2 linked regions of the Homo sapiens genome follow. The protein of the gene in region 2 interacts with the protein of the main gene of each other region in a pairwise test. Each region holds a gene or a part of one and is shown on either strand. Other genes may lie near its edges.

The links.
Region 1: the proteins of TMEM267 (region 2) and SAR1A interact in binary tests that used the Homo sapiens proteins (3 or more experiments, as listed by UniProt).

The regions. Positions count from the first base shown.
Region 1 is NC_000010.11:70,149,915-70,153,514, forward strand, and holds part of SAR1A (small COPII coat GTPase SAR1A), read right to left. Parts: intron 2,679-3,600; coding exon 2,562-2,678; 3' UTR 1-2,561. UniProt on the Homo sapiens protein: Small GTPase that cycles between an active GTP-bound and an inactive GDP-bound state and mainly functions in vesicle-mediated endoplasmic reticulum (ER) to Golgi transport.
Region 2 is NC_000005.10:43,455,978-43,460,111, forward strand, and holds part of TMEM267 (transmembrane protein 267), read right to left. Parts: intron 1-4,134.

The sequences.
Region 1 (3,600 bases), on a different chromosome or scaffold from region 2:
TGTTAATATAGATTTTGCTCAAACATCTGCCATCCCCATCCTGTTGCAGAGATGACCAACAACCCTGGGTCCACAGCATGTTCCAAATCTCTCAAGTAGTACTAAATCTATTACTTCTAGTACCCCAGCCTTTTTCCCCCTCCTGGTGGCAAAATTCAAGTATCTCACACGCACCCTAAATGTCTCTTCCTCTATGCAGGGAACTTTTGGTTGCCTCCCCAAATAAACGGCATTGTTCAAACTCAGAGCTCAGAACAAACCAATGAAAAAAAAAAAAGGAAATAGCGTATTTGTTTTAACTTTTTATTAAAATGCTTAGGATACAGATTGACTTTCTTTCGTAAATGACTGTTTTACTTTTCCTGAAGTAGGACATATATGCACTCTGATAAAACAGAATGAGAAGTCATAATTCATGGGAATTCCTATACAAGGTGCTGATCCTGTGTTTGGAGCTGAGCTCCTCACAGCAGCTTCTTTCAGCTATCTTATAGGAATAGTGTTCCGTGGGGCAAGAAATACATTGGTTCTAACTGATTTTCAATCCCCTTTCTCCAGTGGAATAAACCACTTTCACAAAGAGCTGCCCTATGTATAACCCACAGATTTCTAGCTTGCAACAAAGTGACAAGGGACAAATAGGGGAAAAAAAAAATTAAGAAAACTAACACTGAAGTAATCATACTTCTCATGTCTCCGAACAGAGAAGTATGGGGGACCTTTAACCAAAGGAAATTAAAAATATGCAAGTTATATTACCTAGTTCATTCACTGTTAGCTAGATTTGTTCACTTAAGGCTTTAACCCCTTTCCAAACCAACAACTTTGTCTTAATCCAGCTATGTTTGCTAATAAACGAAATGCATGCACTTCCCACATATATACTTCACTGAGCCTCTGCATTCAGTACCTGGCAGTGAAAAAGTATGCTTTCCCCACAAGTCAGTACTGGAGAATAAGAATGAGAACTCCAACTAAAGAACAATGCCTCCCTCACCCCAGTAATGTTATCCACATTTTCCCTACCCTCACATTAGAATAAAGACATCCTCCCAACTTTTCATCTCCTATCTCCAATCTGTTCATAGGAGATATATCTTTTGATCTTTTATTATAAGGGTAGAATATAGATTAAGATCATCAAAATCCAATTTCACATGTGGCACTAGGAAAATGGAATGCTATAAAATTAATCCCCATCACCCAAGTAGGGATGCCGGTGCTTTTATACTGAGTCTTTACTGCCAATAAGTGATGCTGCCTCCAAAGGAACAGCTCTACAGAAAGTTTTTGGGTTAGTGTTTCCCTAGCTTATTTCTGCAATGGAGAAAGACAATTTCATACCAAAAAAAAAAAAAAAAAAAAAAAAACCTGGAAAAGCTACAGATGTTAACCTTTACTTTAAACACCAATAAAATAGGTGTCAAAGGAGAAAAAATGTAAAAAAAAGAGCTCCCAAACAGCCTGAGAGACCAAATTCTGCAAATGGAAATTTTAAAGCCCACTGAATACATTTTTCATGGATCCAAACAAATGCTACAATACTTTTAAGTCCTCAACTCACAGAATTAAGAGCCCTTAAGCTGTTAACTTTGTCCTGTCTTCCTATTCAGAAAAATGTCCCCCTAGAATCTGTGCAAAAGTAACTGATGCACCTGCAGTATGTGACACGAGAGATGTTCTCAACTCTTTTATGAGGTCAAAGTCACTTTTGATAACTGAAAACGAAAAAGGAAGGTGCTATAGAGAGAAATTAAATTTCACAAAAGTATAAAAGCAAAGACTGGCTAAAATCTGTAACTTCATGAGTAAGAATAACAACAATAACCCATTCTATAATTAACTCCTCCACAGTGAACAATCTGCTACACATTCCTTGATGAGGAATGAACCTAGCTTACCACAGTGGAAACCTGCCACAACTGCAAGGCCGGGGTTCTGCCCCTTTTCTAGTTCTCTGTGCACAAGGTTATGCCACCTACTCCAAGGCAGTCAGAGAGACAGGTGAGCTCAGGGGAGCTTCTCTCACCAACCTGCTAACTCAGCAGGAGTAAGTTTACCCAAATGAGCTCTGGCCTCCATATCTGTTCATAATTTTATGAAGTATCTAAATGTCATTCATTAGTTTAAAAAAAAAAAAGAATAGAAAACTCTGGACCAAGTAAATTGTGAACTCAAAAAGTTAGGAGGGATACCAATTACATTAACAACGCTTTCTTTAAAAAATAGAATCACTTTCTTTTGAATCAACCACAGTGGTGAGACGTGTTTTTCTTTTCAGGTGCCCCATGATGGCATACAGCTTTACCCGGCAAATCCTGCCAGCTTCCAAGTCCCAGGATACTGACCTGCACCAGCACGTGGGGCAGCATTACCTCCCAACAGTGTGGAGAAGAGCACATGTCACCACTGGGCAATGAGAGAGTTGACAGAGACTCTTGGCTTCTCAACGCCAGACATGGTTGGAGAGCTTTCCTTGTTCTATTAGAAAAGTTCATGAGGAAGCTGTGAATAGGATCAGTCCAGAGAAGTAAAACTCTTTTATTTTCACCGTCCAAACATCAGTCAATATACTGGGAGAGCCAGCGGAAACCCTCGCCGTAACCTTGCCTCTTGAGCACACTGCACATGAACACTTCCATGGGGCGAGCATTCAGCTCCTTCAGGGTCACATTCCCCTAAAGGAGGCAAAACCAAGAAAGGCCTGTTAGCATCTCTGTGGTGGAAAAGATTGAAAGGACGATCATTACAATCATTTTATCCATTCCTTAAAAGCAAACCTAAGTAGGTATTAATTACAGAAATGTGGTCAAGGCCATATAGATGACTTCCCCAGGCTTCGTGTTTTCAGGATAGAATAAGCAGCACAGTTCTATTCCCAGCCTTTCTCTCTCTGAAGAGCATTTGCTTTGAACACCCAATATTTATCTGTAAAGTTATGGCAGCAAACCAAGAAAAAAGCCACTGGGACTTATGGAACCAGCATGCCCTCTGATGCAGAAAAGAGGTCTGGGACTGTTTAAAAATAAGGACATTCTCATTAACAAAAGCATGCAGAAATAAACACTCATAACAGGTGGCACTGAAGAAATGAAGAATTCATGTGTATTTAATACTGATGCAAAAGAGGAGAAATTAAATGAAAGAAAGGAAGTATTTCTATAAAGAAACCGATAATCAAGAAGAGGTGAGACTAAGGAACCATGTAAAAAAGTCAGAAAGTTATCACAGAAAAGGAAGATATTTAAAAACTAAATATGCCAAAACCCCAAGCTAAAAAGAACAGTAAGATTCCTGCTTAACTTTATCTGATCTAGATTTTCTCTCTCTCAAGCCTGCTTTTCTACAAGAGTCCTCCTTCCAATTGAAGACAGTAAAAACTATTGATTTGGAAGACTCAAGTTCTTTTTCTGGTTTTATCACTGACTTGCTGTGTAGACCTGAACAAATCACTCTCTGTTTCTTCCTCTGCAAAATGCGGCCAACAGTCCTACCTCTCTCAGCAAGAAGCAATGAGGATAATCAAGTGCTTTGATTTCAATGCTTGGAAAGTGATTGAAATGATTATTTTTCTTCATAACCTGCAAACTCCAGTCCAAA
Region 2 (4,134 bases):
GATGTGTGTCACCATGCCTTTTTTTTTTTTCAAAGAGACAAGGTCTCCCTGTCTCTAGAGAGGCCTCGAACTCCTAGCTGGTCTCGAACTCCTGGCCTCAAGTGATCCTTGGCTTCCCAAAGTGCTGAGATTACAGGCATGAGCCATCATGCCCAGCCTGGTCAATTAATTTTTGATAAAGGTGCAAAGATAAATCAATGGAGGAAGAATATTCTTTTCAACAAATGGTGTGAGAACAAATGGATATCCATATGCAAAAATCATAAACCTGAATCTATATCTTACTCCATATACAAAAATTATCTCAAAATGAATCACAAACCTAAATGTAAATAAAACATAAAAAGATAAAATTTCTGGAAAAAAACATAAAGTATTTTTGTGTCCTTGGGTCACGCAAAGAGTTATTAGATAAAATACCAAAAGCTTGATCCATTAAAAAATTGGTAAGTTGAACTTATCAAAATTAAAAGCTTCTGATCTTTGAAAGACAATGTTAAGAGAAAGAAAAAACAATTTTTAAATCTTATATCTGATAAAGGACTTACATCCAGAATATATAAAGAACTCTCAAAACAGAGTAATAGGAAAACAAACCAATACAAAAATGGACAAAAGATGTGAAAATGGGTACCTACCATTGATGATATTCAGATAGCCAATAAGTATAAGAAATATGTTCATCACCATTAATTATTAGGGAAATGCAAATTTTAAAAATTAGATATCACACACCTGTTAAATGGCTAAAATTAAAGACTGACAATCCCAGATGTTGACAAAGATGTGGAGCAACCAGAACTCATACGCTGCTGGTCGGAATAAAAAACAGTATGACTATTTTGGAAAAACAGTTTTCCAATTTCTCAGAAAGTTAAACGTACTCTTACCATATAACCCAGTCATTCCACTTCTAGGTATTTTCCCAAAAGCTTATGTGTACACAAAGGCTTACACATGAATGTTCATAGCAGCTTTATCTGAATTTGTTCCAAGTTGGAAACAACTCAAATGTCCACAAACATGTGAATAAACAAAAGGTGGAATAAAAAGGAACAAACATGTGATACACATAAAAACATGAATGAATCTTGAAATGATTATAGTAAGTGAAAGAAGTCAAACAAACAAAAATTACACAGTTAAAACCCATAGAACTGTGCGACATAAAGGATGAACCCTAATATAAAGTATGGACTTTAGTCAAAAATAACATATCAATATTGGTTCCCTACTTGTATCAAATATACCACACTATTGCAAATATTAATAATGGGGAAAATGTATGCAGGGCAAAGGGCATCTATAAGAATTCTCTATAATATTGGCTCAATTTTTCTGTAAACCTAAAACTACTATTTAGGTTTATGTATTAGTCTGTTATTGCATGGAACTACCTGAAACTGGGTAATTTACAATGAAAAGAAGCTTAATTGGCTTACAGTTCTGCAGGCTGTACAGGAAGCATGGCTGAGGAAACCTCAGGAAACTTACAATCATGGTGGAAGGTAAAGAGGAAGGAGTCACGTTTTACATGGCCAGAGTAGAAGACTAAAGTGGAAGGTGCTACACACTTTAAACAGCCAGATCTCGTGAGAACGAACTCACTATCATGAGAACACCTAGGGGGATATCTGCCCCCATGAACCAGTCACCTCCCACCAGGCTCCTCCTCCAACACTGGGGATTACAATTTGACATGAGATTTGGGTGAGGACACAAATCCAAACCATATCAGTTTATAAAGTCTATTAATTAGAAAAACTTACAAAAACTTAAAAATAAAGTCAATTTATTTTAAAAAATTAAATAAATGAACCGCCAACAAATATTATAAATTTAAGTAATAGATGTACTGTAGTTCATTATATTTTTCTCTATTTTTCTGTATGTTTGAAATTTTCATTTAGAAATGTTTTTATTAAATTTATTTATTTTGAGGACAGGGTCTCACTGTGTTGCCCACACTGGAGTGCAGTGGCTTGATCTTGGCTCACTGCAACCTTGACTTCCTAGTCTCAGGTGATCCTCCCACCTCACCTCCTGAGTAGCTGGGACTACAGGCATGAGCCATCATGCCTGGCTATATGTTTCCATTTCTATTTATTTAATTTAAAAAATTCTTTCTTTCCTTAATTTTTGAGACAGGGTCTTGCTCTGTTGTCCAGGCTGGAGTGCAGTGGTGTGAATATGGCTCACTGCAGCCTCTATGTCCTGGGCTCATGAGATCCCCCTGCCTCAGCCTCCTGAGTAGCTGGAATCACAGTCACAGGCCACCATGCCTGGCTAATTTTTAAATTTTTTTGTAGAGATGGAATTTCACCATGTTGCCCAGGCTGGTCTGCAGCTCCTGGCCTCAAGCAATCTTCCCACCTCAGCCTCCCAAAGTGCTGGGATTACAGGCGTGAGCCACTGAACCTGGCCTAGAAATATGTTTTTAAAAAGAGTGCATAGTATAATTCTACTTATTTAAAAGTCTACAAAATACAAACTAATTTATAGTGACAGAAAGCAGATCCATGGTTTCCTGAAGACAGTAGAGGCAGGAATGATTAAAAAGGAGAATAAAGAAACTTTGGTAAGGGACGCATATGTTCATTATCTTGACTGTGGTGATAGTTCCATGGTTCACAGTTTCATACATATGTCAAAACGTATCAAACTGTATATTTTAAACATATACAGTTAATTACATGTCAATTATACTCCAACAAAGATGTTAAAAAGTTAGGAAGGTACACTTCATTGATTATAAAACAGCAGGCTTTTGTAAAAAAGGAGAAATATGAAAACAAGAAACTATGGAAATGAAAAAGTTGATTACCCAAATAAAAACTCAATGCAAAGTCTACTATGCACTGAAGGAATGCACAGTGGCGTGAATCTTTCAAACATCAAAATTAGTAAATGAGAACATTTGCAAATAATTTTTCCAAAGCTTAAGGGGAAAATATAAGACAAAGAGTTGGGCATTGAAAAAAAATTTCCAAAAATAAAGAGAAAACCTTTAGAGTTTCTATGTCAAAAAAAAAAAATTATCTTCCAAAGAAAGAGAATGTGATTATCATCAACCCTAAATGTCAGAATACTGTGAGGTAACATTTACAGAACTCTGAGAGAAAAAGATCATAGACTGTAGCATTCTAAGCATAGTTAAATTATGGCACCTATGTGGCAACTGTGAATTTTAAAAGTTTTGCCTTAGAAATTATACACCCATGTATGATTTTGGGGGGTAGGGGAAACTGAGCAGTAGAACTTCTCAATCTCTAGCAGGAAGGGAGACAAATAAAGAAAATTTGATCAATACAGCAAGACAGAAAAGAAAAAAAAGAAAACCTTACTTCCCTCCAGCTCACCCCCACTCTGCAAAAAGCAATAGGGACCAAATAAAATACAAATACCACAACAAATGTGAATGTGTTAAATTTCTCTATAAAGAGACAAACATAATCAGATTGGGGCAAAAGAAAACATCACTAAATTATTGTTCAAAACAAAACACCTCAAACAAAAAGTCTTCACAATATAGAAAATAAAGAGATGAGAAAATATATGTCTAAGAAATACAAACAAAATTAAGTAGCAATGGTAATATTAACTGCAAACACAGAATTCAAGGTAAAAATGATTAATTAGAACTGAAAAGGATAAAATATTCACATCACAGTAAAGTTCTATGGGGTAAGAGGATGCTTACATGTCAAACAACAGCAGCAAAAAATTAAGTGGTCAATAAAAGGCATAATCTGAATAATATAATTTATAAATTTTATTTCATACTCAGGTATACAACTTCATATGCTATGAAGCAGTGGTCCCAGTCCTTTTTGGCACCAGGGACTGGTTTTGTGGAAGACAATTTTTCCATGGACTGTGGAGGGGGATGGTTTTGCGATGATTCAAGTGCATTACATTTATTGTGTACTTTATTTCTATTATTATTACATTGTAATATATAATTAAATAATTACACAACTCAACATAATGTAGAATCAGTGGGAGCCCTTAGCTTGTTTTCCTGCATCTAGAGAGTTCCATCTTAGGATGGTGGGAGACAGTGACAGATCATCAGGCATTAGATTCTCATAAGAAGCACGTGACCTAGAACTCGCATGTGCAGTTCACAATAGG